2 linked regions of the Homo sapiens genome follow. The protein of the gene in region 1 interacts with the protein of each later gene in a biochemical or structural test. Each region holds a gene or a part of one and is shown in the gene's direction. Other genes may lie near its edges.

The links. The genes of interacting proteins can lie anywhere in the genome.
Region 2: the proteins of PTPA (region 1) and PPP2R3A form a complex in vitro, tested with the Homo sapiens proteins (one study listed by BioGRID).

Annotation. Positions count from the first base shown.
Region 1 is NC_000009.12:129,128,402-129,132,154, forward strand, and holds part of PTPA (serine/threonine-protein phosphatase 2A activator), read left to right. Parts: intron 1-583; coding exon 584-709; intron 710-3,120; coding exon 3,121-3,238; intron 3,239-3,753. UniProt on the Homo sapiens protein: PPIases accelerate the folding of proteins. It catalyzes the cis-trans isomerization of proline imidic peptide bonds in oligopeptides. Acts as a regulatory subunit for serine/threonine-protein phosphatase 2A (PP2A).
Region 2 is NC_000003.12:136,101,627-136,105,379, forward strand, and holds part of PPP2R3A (serine/threonine-protein phosphatase 2A regulatory subunit B'' subunit alpha), read left to right. Parts: intron 1-380; coding exon 381-556; intron 557-1,631; coding exon 1,632-1,750; intron 1,751-3,753. UniProt on the Homo sapiens protein: The B regulatory subunit might modulate substrate selectivity and catalytic activity, and might also direct the localization of the catalytic enzyme to a particular subcellular compartment.

The DNA of each region.
Region 1 (3,753 bases):
GGTGTGCGCCTTTAGTCCCAGCTACTTGGGAGGCTGAGGCAGGAGAATCGCTTGAACCTGGGAGGCAAAGGTTGCAGTGAGCCGAGATTGCACCACTGCACTCCAGCCTGGGCAACAAGAGCGAAACTCTGTCTCAAAAAAAAAAAAAAAAAGTTTAGTGTATTTCTGGGTGGCAGGATTACTGGTCATTTTCATTTTCTTCTGTTTATATTTCTATTTTTTATGATGAGTAGGTATTGCATACTGAACAAAAGGCTTCCATAAAGTCTTTTTAAAAAGATGTCAGGGCTGGAGTTAGCTTCTCTATAGCAGCAGCCCATGGGTAGGCTGCCTACAGAAACCAGGTGCTAAAGCCACCCCGTCCCTGTCCCATCAGCCTAGTGTGCTTCCCTCTCTGGAAAGCCTATCATGCTCTCCTGACCCTCCTTCATATTCAGAACAGTGGGGAAGAAAGAGGGATGGGGGAGAGTTCCCAGTAGGGGCCATGCCAAGGGGTCATTGTCTGGCAGCAGTGGACTTCCCTCTGTGGCTAAGCGGGAGCCACTTGCTCTGTAGCTTGGACCCCTCTATTTTGCCTCCACAGGCCATTGAGAAACTAGTCGCTCTTCTCAACACGCTGGACAGGTGGATTGATGAGACTCCTCCAGTGGACCAGCCCTCTCGGTTTGGGAATAAGGCATACAGGACCTGGTATGCCAAACTTGATGAGGTGAGGCTGCCACAGGACAGGCCAGGGACTGGGCTGGCAGTGAGGGTGGTTCTGGCACCAGTTGGGGAAGGGCCTGCATTGTATAGCGCTTCTAGGCATATACAAATCTCAGTTTGTTAAAATGTCAATTTCACTTAGCAAAATTACAAATGAGTTTATACTCTGCTTGGTCATCTTCTGGGAAACACGACTGTGCACATACGGCCCTCTGCACTACAAGGCTGTTTATTAAGTCACTGTATTACAGCAAACTGGAAATGTTCCAAGTATCCATCTGTAGGGGATTATTTAAATAAATTAGTCCATCAATATCATGGAGTACTGTGCAGCTATAAAAAGGAATTTTTTTTATTTTTTATTTTATCTTTTTTTTTTTTTAGACGGAGTCTCGCTGTGTTGCCCAGGCTGGAGTGCAGTGGCGCAGTCTTGGCTCACTGCAAGCTCCACCTCCTGGGTTCACGCCATTCTCCTGCCTCAGCCTTCCGAGTAGCTGGGACTACAGGCACCCACCACCACGCCCGGCTAATTTTTTGTATTTTTCGTAGAGACGGGGTTTCACCGTGTTAGCCAGGATGGTCTTGATCTCCTGACCTTGTGATCCGCCCATCTCGGCCTCCCAAAGTGCTGGGATTACAGGTGTGAGCCACCACGCTCGGCCCCAAAAAGGAATTTTTTTCATAGCTGGGCACGGTGGCTCATACATGTAATCTCAGAATTCGGGGAGGTTAAGGCGGGAGGATCACTTGAGCCCAGGAGTTTGTGAGTAGGTTGGGCAACATAGCAAGACCCCGTTACTGCAAAAAATAAGAAATGGTGGTGCACACCTTTGGTCCCAGCTGCTTGGGTGGCTGAAGCAGGAGAATGACTTGAGCTCTGGAGTTTGAGGCTGCAGTGAGCTATGATGGAGCCATTGCACACCCACTTGGAATGCTAGCTGCATACTCCATGGTGTGGATGGACTAGTCTATTGAACTGATCCTCTACTGATGTTTTTATTTTTGAATCTTACGAAGGTGTTACCTATTCAAAGCAAACAAAAATAAAAATGCAGGATCTCAGACCCTGTCTAGAAAAGCAGAGTCTACAGGTCTGGGTAGGGACTGGGAACCTGGATTTTTACTAGCTTTCCAGGAGATGGCTCATGCCAGTTGTCTACAACTGAGCTTAAGGAAATTTGGGTCCTAATTGCTCTGGCCCAATATTTTCACATAGAGCAGAGGGGAGGACTCAGGACCCAGTGAAGTGCTGTTCCCAAGAGACGCCCGGGCCTGCCTCTGGACTCTTAAGATGGTACATGATCTTTTTTTTTTTTTTTTCCTGTTGTTCAGGCTGGAGTGCAGTGGCATGATCTCAGCTCCCTGCAGCCTTGACCTCCTGGGCTCAAGCAATCGTCCTGCCTCAGCCTCCCAAGTTGCTGGGACTACAGCATGCGCCACCATGCTTGGCTAATTTTTGTGTTTTTAGTAGAGACGGGGTTTCATCATGTTGGCCAGGCTGATCTCGAAATCCTGGCCTCAGGTGATCCGCCCACCTTGGCCTCCTAAAGTGTTGGAATTACAGGTGTGAGCCACTGCTCCCAGCCTTAAGTTATATCTTAAAGCTGACAAATCATAGCTTTACAGCTTGATGGATTTTTACATGTTTTTACTCATGGACTCACCACTCATGCCAAGTTTTTTACCCATGGATTCACCACTCATGTCAAGCAATAGAACATTCTAGCTGGAGTGCTCCCCTTCCCAATTGATATCGCCCAGATTATTCTGATTTCTATTCCATAAATTGATTTTTTTCCATGTTTCTGAACTTCGTATAACTCTCTGGCTTCTTTTGCTCAATGTCATGTCTGAGATTCATCCATGTTTTCATGTCTAGCTATAGGTCTTTTTCTTTGCTGTGTAGTATTCTATTGTATGAATATACCACAATTTATTCATTTCACTGTTGATGGACATTTCCATTGCATTTCCACCTTTTGGCTACTCTAAACAGTGCTGTTGTGAACATTCTTCTGCACGTCTTTTGATGGCACATGACACCAGCTCTTGCTGACCTGAGAGTGTGAAGGAAGGTGGCCTGTGTGGGAATCATAGCACTGACCTTCCAGAGTCTCTGTGGGGCTCCAGTGAGTTACCACATGGGAGGGTTGAGGCTTTTTTCCAGATTCCTCCTGTTTTGCCCCTAGACTCCTGTGCCCTGGAAAAATCAGTTGATGATAAGTCGCCTGGGTAGTCTTCTGCTGTGGAAGAATAAATGCTGTCCCTCCCCTTCCTTCTGTGGCCTGTCAGAACAGGAACCAAGCTGGCCTGGCAAGGCAGTGTGGGCCCCCAGTCAGGTGCTGCCCCTGGGCACCTGCCCACTGGGATGCTGCTTAATATGCTGCCACCACTTTGTGTCTCTTGTGTTACCAGGAAGCAGAAAACTTGGTGGCCACAGTGGTCCCTACCCATCTGGCAGCTGCTGTGCCTGAGGTGGCTGTTTACCTAAAGGAGTCAGTGGGGAACTCCACGCGCATTGACTACGGCACAGGTATCTGCTGCTTGTGGGGCTCTGTACTTATCTAGCTTCACTGCTTTCTGTTTTGGGCTTCAGGTGGTCTCTGGGCCCTCTGAGCAAGTGAGAGCAATCAAGAATTCGCCAAGCACCTGCAACCTATTGGGGCCAGCTGGGGTTAGGGTGGCTTCACCGGCAGGGAGGGCGTAGGCATGCAGGGAGGCCCGGATGCTGCAGCTCTGCTGTGGTCCACCAGGGGGAGCTGATGCCCCGTGCATGGTGCTTGCGCAGCGCTGCTTTCTGTTCTTGTGAAAATGGTCTCTGAGCTCCTCATCATCACCAAAATAATTATTAATTGAGCACTTACTGTGTGTCAAGGCAGCAGCTTACTGAAGCTTTGAGAAATGGGAACGCTTCTTGGTGGCCTTTGCAGTGTCGTGGCACACCCTCTCCCTTGAACCCCTTGTCTCTTAGCCACATTCTCTGTGCTATTGGGCTGTTTGGATCTGTGGTCCATGTAAGCCAAGGGACCTGGACTTTGAGGAGAGGGA
Region 2 (3,753 bases), on another chromosome or scaffold:
TGTTGGCCAGGCTGATCTCAAACTCCTGACCTGAAGTGATCTGCCCACCTCAGTCTCCCAAAGTGCTGGGATTACAGGCATGAGCCACCGTGCCCAGCCTCTAATAATAGTTCTGAAAATAAATACAAGAAAGGAGCGATATAGACGTGTTATCTGAAAATAGGAAGGTAAAAAGCAAAATGGGGTTGAACACGGTTGATTCTGGGTGGAAAAATAAAGGGAAGAAGGGGTCCGCCATTTTCTCTAACAAACTTTGTAAAACTATATCTAAGCCTGAAGTGTATGTAATATGTAACTTTTACTTTAAAAGAAACATACTAAATCTGGATAAATAAAAGGTCTTTACCAGGCCCATGATAATGATTGTCCTTATCATCTAGCATTGAGTATTGGTTCCGCTGCATGGATGTGGATGGAGACGGTGTACTCTCCATGTATGAGCTGGAGTACTTCTATGAGGAGCAGTGTGAACGGATGGAAGCCATGGGAATTGAGCCCTTGCCATTCCATGATTTACTGTGCCAGATGCTTGACCTAGTGAAGCCAGCTGTTGATGGTGAGACCAAGCAATGGGACAGATGCACTGTTCACCTATGTATCAGAGGAGGGCAAAGAATCCTAGATTGTCCTAAATTATTTAACATTTCAGAGTCTTGATAGAAGACTTCCTAGGACAGAAGTGTTTAAAGTTTCTCCTTGACTATTAGTGTAGCAACTTTTTTTTTTTTTTTTTTTTTTGAGATGCAGTCTCGCTTTGTCTGCCAGGCTGGAGTACAATGGTGTGATCTCAGCTCACTGCAACCTCCGCCTCCTGGGTTCAAGTGATTCTCCTGCCTCAGCCTCCCAAGTAGCTGGGACTACAGGCAACCACCACCATGCCCAGCTAATTTTTGTATTTTTAGTAGAGATGGGGTTTCACCATGTTGGCCAGGCTGGTCTCGAACTCCTGACCTCAGGTGATCCACCCACCTCGGTCTCCCAAAGTGCTGGGGTTACAGGCGTGAGTCACCATGCCCAGGCTTAGTGTAGCAATTGATGGCAAGTCTGCTATTTAAGAAATAGGATTTTACACCAGGCACAGTGGTGTATGCCTGTAGTCCCTGCTACTAAGGATGCTGAGGTGGGAGGATTGCATTATGATTGTTCCTGTGAGTAGCCACTGCACTCCAGCCTAGGCAACACAGCGAGACTGTATCTCTTTTTTAAAAAGAAAATGAAAGCGGGGTTTGGGGGATGAAAGAAGATTTTTCCTTAGACACAGAAAGCACATGAGGAGAGATGGGAGGGACTGCTTGATGGGCACAGAGTTTCCTTTTGGGGTGATGATATTATTACAGAACTAGATAGTGGTAATGGTTGTACAACATTGTGAGTGTACTAAAAGCCACTGAATTATGCACTTTAAAATTGTTTAAATGGTGAACTTTATTAGTGAATTTTACCTCAATAAAAGAAATGGGTTTGAGAAATTGATACCCTTGAAAAAAGAAATGAGATTTAAATTTTTTTATTCTGAAAATAGGACTTTTATAATAAACATATACCTATACTTTTAGATGTCAGGGAAAGTTTTTTCCTCTTGCCAAAACAGCTCTTGATGAAATTTACCAGATTTGTTTATTTTTATGTAGGCAAAATAACTCTAAGAGATCTGAAGAGGTGCAGAATGGCTCACATCTTCTATGACACTTTCTTTAATCTGGAGAAATACTTAGACCATGAACAGAGAGATCCCTTTGCGGTCCAGAAGGTAACAGTATAATTTTAACTTTTATTTGAGGGCTGCAGTGTCAGGGGCTGTGTGTGCTACATATTAACATGGTCTCTGCATGCTGGAATTTCGGTAAAGAGGTAACATTTGTAACATTTCATTAAAGACTAAAAAGAGACAATAAAGGACCTCTAGAGCACATGTCTCTCCACAGCCGATCGTCAGGTCTAAGTAACCTGCATCTGTGTAAGCACTTTCCACTGAGCGGACTCTATAGCTCATCTACTGATACACACACTGGAAACAAAAGAGTAGTTTTGAAAAAAAAATTGTCCTTCTAACTTTTAAAAATATATCAATAGGCACATCTGTATTAGAAACTATATTGGCCTTGATTCACTTGTACCATTCATTTCCAGGATTCCATGGTAAGTAGCTTTCCCCATCACGGTAAAAACTAGAGTTCTCCATGATAGAAAACCTTCAAATAATATAACGCCTTTTCACGTGTTAATGATTGCCGTTCATGGCTATCAGTTTTGAATGCATTCTACATCTGAATAAAGCTGAATATCCTTCCCCAGACACACAAACCTGTGGACCCTCAGAAAACCCTATACATACGATCCATGTTAAAAATAAAAACAATGTCACCCCTTGTTCTTACCATTCCTCTAAGAAGTAAAAATTATGTTAAGAACAGACTGTTGCAGTTGAGTAACAGTAAACTATAAGAAGCTTTTGCATTCTTTTTTCTTCTGCATGTTCCATAACTGTTTGACCTAAATAGTAGTAAGAATATGATCACCTTCTAAATAAGATAAATAAGAATTTATCGCCTTCCAAAAACAAATATTCTGCAGCTGACCTCAGCATATCAAGTTGCATTATCGCTGGCTTAAAGTCTGTTATGGTTCATTGAATTTAACATGCTCCATAATTTTATATTTGTTTCTTTCTTTGTGTGTGTGTGTGTGTGTGTGTGTGTGACAGAGTTTCGCTCTTGTTGCCCAGGCTGGAGTGCAATGGTGTGATCTCGGCTCACCGCAACCTCCGCCTCCCGGGTTCAAGTGATTCTCCTGCCTCAGTCTCCTGAGTAACTGGGATTACAGGCATGCACCACCACACCCAGCTAATTTTGTATTTTTTGTACAGACAAGGTTTCTCCATATTGGTCAGGCTGGTCTCGAACTCCCGACCTTAGGTGATCTGCCCACCTAGGCCTCCCAAAGTGCTGGGATTACAGGCGTGAGCTGGCTGTGCCCAGCCTGTTTTATAGTTCTCTAAGCAAAAACAAAACCCCAAACATTGCCAGTTGTAAGCCTATAATGCATTGCAATTTTATAAATGTTAGAAGGATAGAGATGGGGTCTTAAAAGGAGTTAAATATAGTAATTAATAGTGGTCATTGTTTAGGAACTTAACATTATTCTTGGCATAACTAACTCTAGACCCTAGGGCAATACTAACTCATGTTCGGCTTGGAAAGACATTTTATCTGAAACATAAAATTTCAAGAAAATTCACAAAAGTGTGTGGTCTTTTCCCTCTTCACTTATTTTCTTTGTGTTACCATTTTTACTCTAAAAAAATTACCTTTAAATTTTACTTTTTTTAATAAATGGTATAATTATTGATATTTGTTCTGATCTACAAAGAACATTATTAGTCAGTGCTTAATAAATTCTGGGCACTGTGTTGAAGAGATACTGGATATATGGAGATGGCAGAGATACAAGAACAAAAGGTGGCAACCAAAGTATCTACATTAGGAAAAAGGAAGTGATATGGAGAGAAGGGCTGTTTCCAGGAAGCTATCACAGACAGCGTGGTATCTGAGTTGGCTTTTAAAGAACAAAAATTTGCCAGCGAATGGGGGCTTGGGGAAGGTACATTTCAGGCGGGCCTGTGGCAAACCACAAGTCACTCCAGGTGGCTGCTGTGCAAAGTGCCAGAGGAGAGGGGACCAGAGAAATGTCTCTGATTACAAGGCTAAAGAGTAGACTTACCAGGTGCTATGGCTTGTGCTTGTAATCCCAGCT